3 linked regions of the Homo sapiens genome follow. The protein of the gene in region 2 purifies or fractionates together with the protein of the main gene of each other region. This does not show direct contact. Each region holds a gene or a part of one and is shown on either strand. Other genes may lie near its edges.

Evidence for each region.
Region 1: the proteins of ASB11 (region 2) and PSMB2 purify together in Homo sapiens (affinity purification with mass spectrometry, with the first as the bait; one large-scale study listed by BioGRID). This does not show direct contact.
Region 3: the proteins of ASB11 (region 2) and ERLIN1 purify together in Homo sapiens (affinity purification with mass spectrometry, with the first as the bait; one large-scale study listed by BioGRID). This does not show direct contact.

What each region holds. Positions count from the first base shown.
Region 1 is NC_000001.11:35,603,405-35,607,057, reverse strand, and holds part of PSMB2 (proteasome subunit beta type-2), read left to right. Parts: intron 1-1,775; coding exon 1,776-1,825; intron 1,826-3,653. UniProt on the Homo sapiens protein: Non-catalytic component of the 20S core proteasome complex involved in the proteolytic degradation of most intracellular proteins. This complex plays numerous essential roles within the cell by associating with different regulatory particles.
Region 2 is NC_000023.11:15,291,520-15,295,172, forward strand, and holds part of ASB11 (ankyrin repeat and SOCS box protein 11), read right to left. Parts: intron 1,802-3,653; coding exon 1,651-1,801; intron 1-1,650. UniProt on the Homo sapiens protein: Substrate-recognition component of a cullin-5-RING E3 ubiquitin-protein ligase complex (ECS complex, also named CRL5 complex), which mediates the ubiquitination and subsequent proteasomal degradation of target proteins, such as BIK, DIRAS2 and RPN1.
Region 3 is NC_000010.11:100,172,479-100,176,131, forward strand, and holds part of ERLIN1 (erlin-1), read right to left. Parts: intron 3,593-3,653; coding exon 3,467-3,592; intron 1,804-3,466; coding exon 1,730-1,803; intron 1-1,729. UniProt on the Homo sapiens protein: Component of the ERLIN1/ERLIN2 complex which mediates the endoplasmic reticulum-associated degradation (ERAD) of inositol 1,4,5-trisphosphate receptors (IP3Rs).

The sequences.
Region 1 (3,653 bases), on a different chromosome or scaffold from region 2:
ATTTTGAGTTGAATTTTGTATAGGGTAAGAGGTGAGGGTCTGGTTTCATTCTTCTGTGTATGGATATCCAGTTTTTCTAGCACCATTTATTGAAGAGACAGACTGTCCTTTCCCCAATGAGTGTTCTTGGTACCTTCATCAAAAGTCAAATGTAGATATGTGGCTTAATTTCTTAATTTCTCTATTCTGTTTAATTGGTCTATGTGTCTATTTTTATGCCAGTAGCATACTGTTTTGGTTACTACAACTTTGTGATATATTTTGAAGTCTGGTAGTGGTATCAACTACCAGATTTGTTCTTTTTGTTCAGGATTGCTTTAGCTATTCAGAGTCTTTTGTGGTTCCTTACAAATCTTAGGATTTTTTTCCATAATTCTGTGAGGCATGTCATTGGCATTTTGATAGGGATTGCATTGAATATATAAATTTCTTTGGGTAGTGTTGTCATCTTCATAATATTAATTCTTCTGATCCATGAGCATGAGATGTATTTCCATTCGCTTGTATCCTCTTCAGCTTATTTCATCAGTGTTTTATAGTTTTCGTTATAGAGGTCTTTCATCTCCTTGGTTAAATTTATTCCTAGGTATTTTATTTTCTTTGATTTTTGTGTCTATTGTAAATGGGATTGCCTTCTTGATTTCTTTTTCAGCTAGTTTGTGTATAGAAATACTGATTTTTGTATATTAATTTTGTATCCTGCAACTTTATGGAATTCATTTATCAGATGTGAGAGTTTTCTGGTGGGGTCTTTAGGTTTTTCTATATAGAAGATCATGTCATCTGCAAATAGGGACATTTGACTTCCTGCTTTCCAATTGGGGTACTCTATTTCCTCCCCTTGCCTAAGTGCTCTGGTTAGGACTTCCTAGACACAGGGATGCTTTTGTGCTAAGTTCCATCTTCTGACCCCAGTCCTAACCTCGACTTTAGCCTCTGTGGGCAGTGGGTACTTTGGAATTCTTAGCTTTTACAGACTATAGATGAAGCACAGATAACCACTTCTCTCCTTACATTCCATTCTTCACTGTCAGTATCGTAAGAATCTGGCATGTTCATTCTTTTTTGGTGCTGCCCTCTCGCTCAACCTTAGCCACGCTAGAGCTCCAGGCCACATCCTGAAAAGAATTAGCCTGGCCTCCCAGTGACTTTCTTGATTTGGCATCTGTCAGTAATACAGCTGATTTGCCCACCAAAATAACTACTAGCCACCCCTGAAGCCTGAGTGCATAACATGTCGTCCCAGTTTGCCACGCCCACAGACAGTTCCTTTGGCTCCTATTTGGGGAGAGTCTCAGCCCCATCCTATGAATTCTCTTCCCATTGTTAAACAGAGACCCAGCTGGGAAAACAAGGCTGAAATTCTGACCCCATCGTCTCTTTCCCTGATTTGCAGCTGACTGGGGCAGATGGAATTGATTCAAACCCTGGACTAAGGGGGAGTGAAAGGGGTGGGTTATGATAAAGAGAGACAGGCTGCTGGACTTCTTCAGAGGTGGGCCCTGGCCAGGGGAGGCAGAATTCCTTCATGCTCACCCTTTACTGTAGCAAATCAATTTGCAATGGCTTATAGCTGCTGGAGCACTGGGTCTGGGGCCCCCCCAGCTGCATGTGGAGTAAGTTGATTGCAGGCTAGAAGGCAAAGCATTTTTTGCCTTTTACGTTTGTGTGGCACTGAGACCTGAAGAAGCCAGATTTGGAACTTAATCAAAAGCTTCTGAGAGTTGGATATAATGACAGCACCGGAAGTATTTGGTCTCTGTGTTCTCTTTCAGCTATCTCACGTGAGAGGGCAGTGGAACTCCTTAGGAAATGTCTGGAGGAGGTGAGTAGTTCCCATAGGATCCTGAAAGGAATGTTTGTCTCTCTGTTTGCCAGTGTTGTTCCTGTTCCTCAGTTATATTTTTTCAGATTTTTGCCAGAAGGTGTAATACATACCCACTAACCAGATGTGAAGTTGCTACCAGGGATAGAGTTTGGTGTGGATAGCAAGCTCACTTTTCTCTCACAGATTACCTCCTCAATGTCAGTTTTATAATTTAATTCTTTCTGGTTTATCCAAACCAGTGGTTCTCAAATTTTAGTGTGTGTAAGTATCACCTGGGAAACCTGTTAAACAGATTGCCATCTCTGCCCCAACCCTCAATTCTGAGTCCACTGTTCTGAGGTACAAACTGGGAAGCTCTGCTTTAACTGGCAGTCCCAGGTGATTTTCCTACAGGTGGTAACTGAGGCTGTACTTGAAGAACTTCTGCTCTAGACTTTATTTTTTTATTTGAGACGGAGTTTCGCTTTTGTTGCCCAGGCTGGAGTGCAGTGGCACGATTTCAGCTCACTGCAACCTCCGCCTCTGGGTTCAAGCAATTCTCTTGCCTTAGCCTCCCGAGTAGCTGGGATTACAGTTGCCCACCACCATGCCCGGCTAGTTTTTTGTATTTTTAGTAGAGACAGGGTTTCACCATGTTGGCCAGGCTGGTCTTGAACTCCTGACCTCAGGTGATCCGCCTGCCTCGGCCTCCCAAAGTGCTGGGATTACAGGCATGAGCCACCACGCCCATCCCTGCCCTAGACTTTATACCTGCTCTGTTCTTGTGCCACCTGTAATTGCCATACTGCCTGCTCCCTTAATAGTGCTCGAGTCTTTGTAATCTGTGAGAAAAAGCCTCCCCTAAGAATTCAGGAGGACCATAGAAAGCAACTAGGAAGCTTTGGGCAGAAGGGGAGAGTAGACTTTGGCTTGCGAGGACAGGATTACAGAACACACCCTTTCTAACACTACTCCTTAGAGTCTAAGGCTTTGGGTATAGATGGAGAATGGGGGAATGGGGAGGTCAAAAACCAGCCACATTAGTTTTTTTCATTCTTTTACTGTTCCTGTGGCTTAAGGATGAACTTGACCTCGTGGTTTAGTAAGAGAGTAGGAAGATAAGAGCAGGAGCGTTGGGAGTAATGTCAGTTTGCTTCTTACACAAACCTTTTGTTTTCAGTCCACAGTGCCCACCCCACCCCCCGCTTTTTTTTTTTTTTTTTAAGAGATGGATCTCACTTTGTTGCCCAGGCTGGAGTGGAGTGCAGTGGCACCATCATAGCTCACTGCAGCCTGGATTTCTGGAACTCAAGCGATCCTCCCAAGTAGCTGAGACTACAGACAGGCACCACCATGCCCAGCTCATTTTATTTTTAAGAGATGGGGTCTTGCTATGTTACCTAGGCTGGTCTTGAACTCCTGGGCTCAAGATATTCTTCCACCTCAACCTCCCAATTACAGGCCTGAGCCACAGCTCCTGGCCTCTGCTTCGTTCTGAGGACAATCACTCTTTGTTAGCTTATTATCTTGAGACATTTTAAGAGAGACGTCTGTGTTTACCAGACTGATGGGTAACAGACTATGGGGAACAGAACACTGGATTGTCTCATTCTTTCGTCAGCTGACTGACCAGAGACAGGCTCTTAGTTGCACCTCCCAGTTCAGCCTCCCTGCCTCCCAGTCATCCTCCAGCTGCTGTTTGGGTACCCTCTACCACTAGAGTACTAGTGCCCTACTGCCAACTGCCTCCAGTAGAATATCAGTTCCACAAAAGCAGGGATTTTTGTTTGCTTGTATCCCCAGTGTCTAGAACAGAGCCTGGCACATAGAACTTAGTAATCATTTG
Region 2 (3,653 bases):
ACATGATGAAACCCTGTCTTTACTAAAAAATACAAAAATCAGCTGGGCACTGTGACAGGTGCCTGTAATCTCAGCTACGTGGGAGGCTGAGGCAGGAGAATTGCTTGAACCCAGGAGGTGGAGGTTGCAGTGAGCCGAGATTGTGCCATTGCACTCCAGCCTGTGAGACAGAGCAAGACTCTGTCTCAAAAAATAAAAAAAAAATTTAAAAAAATTAAAAAAAAAAGACTTATATGGCTGAGCACGGTGGCTCATGCCTGTAATACCAGCACTTTGGGAGGCCGAGTCAGGTGGATCACCTGAGGTCGAGTTCGAGACCAGAGTGGCCAACATGGTGAAACCCCATCTCTACTAAAAATACAAAAATTAGCCAATTGTGGTGGCGGGCACCTGTAATCCCAGCTACTTGGGAGGCTGAGGCAGGAGAATCGCTTGAACCCAGGAGCCAGAGGTTGCAATGAGCAGAAATCATGCCACTGCACTGCAGCCTGGGCAACAGCACGAGACTCTGTCGAAAAAAAAAAAAAAAAGAAAGAAAGACATTTATATCATTTCCAAAGTAGTTCATTACTCTACAACTTAAAGGACTTACATGATGTTTGGGAAATGACTAACATCAGCTATTAATTAATAAATATGTATTAAATACATTTAGAACATAAAATACATAGATAAATTTAGATTTGGGTCTTTTGCATCATTTAAAGTAATCCACTGGAAAAAATTGGCAAGTGACATGTTTAATAACCTGGAACAAATCTTTCACTTTTGCTTTTTGAAATAAAATATTTCATCTCCAGTTACACCAGCAAAGATCACTATTCTAGAGTGTTTTAACTTCACCATTGTATTTCTGATCTCAGTATAAGAGAACAACTCCCTCACTTGCTATCATCAAAATGTTGCTCTTTGGGTGTGACCTTTGACAAATGGCCTTCTCCTTTCAGTGGCATCTTCTCGGTTCAGGTCTAGTCTGTACATACAGTCTTTAAATTCCTTAAATTTACTATTTTCCTTCACTTGGAAATTAACTGACAACACAGGAGTCTAGAGTCAGCTTCAAGATTACCAATGCTATACTTTGGAAAGTTGCAGCCTTTTCTTTTCAATAACTATGACCTTGAAGTCATCAGCCCATCTAGATTGTGTAACTTATTATGAACGGTTATATTTACTATTCCATTAGAGATAGTATCAGCCTTGGCTTTCAGATACTTTCATAGTTTATTTTAGGTTAGTGGTTGGTATTTTATGGGCTTTAGAGGATAAGCTATTCTTGCCTACTAAGGACAGAGACATAAGCATAGTACAATTCAGGGAAGTCAGAACTACTGCCTTGGCTGTACCAGCTGCCACCAAAACACCAGCAAAGAGGATCTGGAAAGGCCTGCCAATAGACCATCCCCAGGAAATGGGAAATTGGAGTCAGGAAAGCATTCCGAAGTTATAAGTAGGGCTCTTTTGTGCCACACTGGTATTTCCTGAAGATTTAGGCAAATTGAAGTTACTGCTGTGGGATTTCTAGGCCACACATATTCTAATGGTGAGGAAGATCAGGGTCACCCTTGAATGACTAACACTAGACCATTGATTCATACAGATTGGAGTGAGCCCATCAATGTTTCACATGCATTGTGGTGGCTCATTTACCTCTCTTCACTGCCTCATGGATGGGCGAGGCCAGGTGCACCTCCAACTGGGCCTTGGCTCCGAACTCCAGCAGCACATTGACACATGCAGCACTGCCGCTGCAGCAAGCATTGAAGAGGGGTGTGGCTCCGTGAACTGTCACTCCATTGACCTAATGATGGGCAAAGAGAGACCCAAAGGATTTGTTATTTCATTCTCACCATCTCCAAGTATGTCTTCCTATGTATTTGCCTAGAGGAATTCCCCACGCTGGTGAATAAGTGAGGGAACTCCACATCTTTACAGTATTATGAAACCTCATGAAGTTATTGGGTGGATCGAGCGAGTTACTATATGTAAACACTTAAAACATTACATGTCACCCAGTAAGCACTCAATAAGCATTTGCAACAACAATTATTTCCATTTTCCATTTTCCATTAATATGACTCCCCTCTGAATCATGAACAAACATGGCAGGCTGTGGTCCCAAAATCCATGCTTACAAAATCCTTGGCAATTCTCCACAGATCTACTGTCTTTCTTGCCACAACTTCCTCTCTGGTCTACTATAATCCATGCAAATTACACATGCCAGCTGTTACTTCTAGAGATAGCATGACCAAGCCAAAGGGACATAGAAAATAGCCATCAACATTTTCTTAATCCAGTCTATCATTGTTGGACATTTGGGTTGGTTTCACAGGAAGGGGAACATCACACACCGGGGACTGTTGTGGGGTGGGGGGAGGGGGGAGGGATAGCATTAGGATGTAAATGACGAGTTAATGGGTGCAGCACACCAACATGGCACATGTATACATATGTAACAAACCTGCACGTTGTGCACATGTACTCTAAAACTTAAAGTATAATAAAAAATAAAAATAAAAATAAATAAATAAAATTAAAAGATTAAATTTAAAAAAAGGAAAGAAAATAGCCATCAACATGGTGTCTGCAACCATCTTTGGTACCTTGTAGGGATGTGGGAAGCACATGAGAACCAGCAGGGCTGGGAGACATCTTTGTGTATCAGCAATAGATTGGAAAGAACATCGGGAACCGCAGGAGTGGTAGGGAGCCTCTGATGCCATTGAAATATAGGACAGTCAAGTTTGTGATGTGAAACAATTTTGCTTCAACAACTAAGGATGCATGCTTGTGATAATCAGGATTCTAAATGTCCTTGCTTTGGACACAAAAAAAGACTTGTTTCCAGAGTTGCAATATAACCCGTGAAACAGGGTCTTGCTCTGCTATCCAGGCTGGAGTGCAGTGTCATGATCATAGCTCACTGCAGCCTCGAATTCCTAGGCTCAAATGATCCTCCTGCCTCAGCCTCCTGAGCAGCTGGGACTACAGGCGTGCACCACCATGACCCACAAATTTAGAAAAATTATTTGTAGACAGCGTCTAGCTATCTTGCCCAGGCTGGTCTCAAACTCCTGGGTTCAAATGACCCTCCTGCCTCAGCCTGCCAAAGGGCAGGGATTACAGGTGTGAGCCACCACACCCAGCCTAACCCCCATTAAATTGGAAAGTTAAAGATAATATGCTAAGATGGCAGAGACAGACAAGGTCAGGGGAAAATGTGTGTAAATTTATATTGCTAGGGGTTTCTATATTTTTACTAAAAAATATTTGGTAGGACTAGTTTGATTTGTGTTTTACTAAGTTTCATCCTCACCCTCAGTCTAGGAAGTTGTCTTCTTATGCGATTTCCTATAAATTTCTCTTAGTTCACGTCAACAAACATTTATTGAGCATCTACTAGGTGCTAATGTTTTGGAAACAATGATAAGACAATTGCCTCTCCTTGAGTGGGCTGAACAATTGCCTCTCCTTGAGTAGGCTGAATTCCATTAGGGAAGACAAATACAAAAAGAATTTTTTTTAATTTTTTTATTTTTTAGATGGAGTCTTGCTCTGTTGCCAGGCTGGAGTGCAGTGGTGTGATCTCGGCTCACTGCAACCTCCGCCTCCTGGGTTCAAGAGATTCTGCTGCCTTAGGCTCCCAAGAA
Region 3 (3,653 bases), on a different chromosome or scaffold from region 2:
AGTAAGAAAGAAAACAATCCAACAGAAAAATGGGCAAAAGATATGAATAGGCAATCAGCAGAAGACAGTATAAATGACCAATAAATGTATCAAAAGATGTTCAACCTCATTAACAACCAAAGGAATGCAAATCAAAGGGAGATATAATTGCCCACCCATCCATATGGTAACAATCAGTATGTCTGATTGCTTCCAATGTTGGTGAGTTCATGGGTCACAATTATTTGCACATATTGCTGTTAAGAATGTACATTTGTACAGTCAGTTTGAAAGATAATTTGTACATACAAGAACATGTGTCATGAATGTTCATTACACTATTGTTTAATAGCAAAAAACTGGGAACAGAAAAATGGCTAAGTAATATAAGGCAAGGAATTCTAAACAACAGTTGAATGAGCTAGATCTCTGAGTAACACCCTGGGCAGAATCTAAGAGCTGACCTTCACATTCACTATCTTTAAAACTAAAAAGCTACTCCAGCTACAACTGACTTGAACAACTCAGAGGATTTTACAAAGTTACCTCTGGACATTTCAAACGACCCCTTAACTCTGGTGGCTCACCCTCAAGCGCCTGAGATAATGACATTGCATGAATGAGGCCATGAGGAAAACCCCACCTATCTTTCAGTCTTGTTTTTGAGAAGCACGAACACATACAATCACAGTGAGCGCACACTCTCAGTAGCAGTGGTGCTGAGTGTAAAGAATTGAGAGACATGTGATAAGCTTTAGTTGCAGTAATGTTCATCACAACAATCAACAATCAACTGGTCTCCTAGAGCTCCTGAGAAAGGACACTAGAGAAGCCTCAATATAACTTCTTAGGTCATCTGGATCCAGAGCAGTGGCTTTCGAATGTTACTGACAGTGGACACAGTAAGAAACACATTTTGCACTGACGTCCAATATAAACACCTACCCCGCCACACTGTGAAACACAAGTGTCACAGAATATTTAAACTTATTACATACCATTTCTTTTCCTATTCTATTCCATTTTATTTAAAATGCTGTTCATGACTCACTAAAGTTGATTTTACAACCCACAATCTGGAAAACACAGTGACCCAAAAAAAAGCAGGGGTAAAACCTCTCACCATTCTATTTCCCAACGTCACCATCACCACTACCACTAAATTCACCTGCTACCTTGTTTTTACTAGGGCTGTCCCTCCCACTTGAAATACCTTTCTCATTCTTCCCCCATTTAAATCCAATTAATTTTTCCAAACCTACTTAAAATCTCAACTCAATCACAGCCCTCTCCTAGACACACTGTCTTCCAATGTTCTCTTACTCTTACAGCAATAATCATTCAATAGATTCATCTGTCAATTAATACTTTGTGATAACTATTTTGTCCAGGATTGTTCAAATTTTACACTTGAACTCCCTTTTCATAATCTTACTGAGGGCAGGGATTATGCTTACACTGATTTATAACCATTACTGTATCTTAATGCTTCATACATGGCAGAAATATGAATTTTACTTCCTTGTAAGAGCCTCAGCTTATCAGTTCCCTCTAGGAGTTCACAAATGTCACCCATAGTAAGCTACAAGAGTATTTTATTTTGGCAGAGATCTAAAGTCAAATTGAGAAAGGTATTCTATAAATCACCATAGCATCTCAAATAATTGCTGAATAAAACAATCCAATGAAAGGAGGAACAAACTCAAAGCTCTCAAAATCCCCAGAGAACTTCCCTAGGAAAAGAACTTACCTGTATAGTGAGACCTGGGGCCATGAGGTTTAAGTCTTTCTGCAGAGCTTGCTTCAGGTTTTCATCTATTTGATCTGTTTTTTAAGCCAAGAACAACAGATCTCATGATAGTCAATTTTTTTTACATTGTATTCATAATGAAACAAAACTAATCATTATTAGACCTAAAGTTTCCACAGTACTATTCTTTTACAGAGCTTAAACTGCCTTTTCTTCCCTTTTGTGTGGGAAAAAAATTGCAAGGAATTATCTAATAAAGAAATTAAGGAACGAAGATGACAAGCAGATAGTCTGTTTATCCAATAAGTTTACCCACTAAATGTATTACTTAACTATGGATAAGCTTTTTTACTGGGTAACTTATTAGACTTATTTACTGGATAAACAACTACTGGGTAAAATATGTTGATCTAATAAATGGAGAATCTGGATCTCTAGTATCTTAATTCAGGGCTCTTACTCAATATGTATCCTCATTCTCAAAGAAAAACAAATTTCTATGTTCAGTAAATCTTTACTCAAATTCCCAAATAACTAAACTTCATTTCCATGGATCTCAGCCTCACTGTTATTTTGGATTTAAAGAGAGAGAGAGAGAGAGACAGAGAGAGAAGCTCATAGAAAAGTATTTGAAATATACACAGCATGAACACTTGGGCTTGTAACTATGCACTTTCTATTCACCTCAATGGTACTTTCGCTATTTAAATGACTGGTGGTGAGACAAAGCAGGACCCATCAGTTTCCTCACATGCCACTTCAGTGGTTGACAATCACCAAAGAGGACTCAATTGGTAGATTTTAAATTGATTACTCTTGCTTATTCCTTCATCTTAGAAATTCACTAAAAATTTCAGGAGGGAAAAGTGAGCTACCAACAGCAACAACTCATTCCCTGGTCAGAACTTCCACTATCATAAATGAAAAGTAAGTTGTACAGAAGTGAGTTAAGAAAGCAGGGCTGATACTGCAATCCTTAGAAAGGCCTTTTGTAAACTCGTCCTTGGTTGGCACCTAGGAACTTGGATTTGTAGAAGGGTCCCACTATCCCCAGAGCTAATACAATTGACTTGCTGTGAACTGTTTATACAATGTGGCTTATGCCAAACACCTGCATTCCTTCCAGGAGTCTGGAATTTTTATGTGGTAGGCAGAGGGTGCCTACATAATCAGCCCCCAGTGAAAACCCTGGGCAATGAGTCTCCAATGAGCTTCCCTAGTAGACAACATTTCACATGTGTTGTCACAGCTTGTTGCTGTGGGAATTAGGCACATGTTTGACTCTTGGAAGCCTGCACCTGCTTTCCTCTGCATTTTGCTGGTGTGCCTTTGCCTCTCGCTGATTTTGCTTTGTACCCTTTGGCTGTAATAAATCTTAGCTGTGAACACAACTATGTGCTGAGTCCTGTCAGTCTCCTACCAAATCATCAAAAATGGGAGCCTCAAGACACAGGTTTCTAAATTTTTCAAATTATCTATTAAAACATCAACAAAGCTAATTTTCACTAAGTTATTACAGTAAAAACAGAATACAGTCTGAGTAGTTTTTCCAATCTCTAACAAGTTATATAAAAAATTTTAAACTTAAGATAAAAAATATTTTAAAGACAATTGCTCTATGATAAATTCAGAAGAAATGCTTAAATAGCACTAAGGTTTACCAATATAACCTCAATAAGTAAGCTGAACAAAGATTTCCAATTGGCTATTTACATACATAAGAATTAAGACACTTACCAAACAATTCAATGTAAACTTCCTGAAGTGTGTGGGCACTGCAGAACTGGTTCAGCTCATGGTGGATTTTATTGAAGATTAAGGTCTTGTCATAATCTGCAGTATAGTTCCTCACGATATCAAACACTGAAGGAGAGGTACAACCCATGTTTGTTTTACCCAACAATGACACAGGTACCTTCAAATT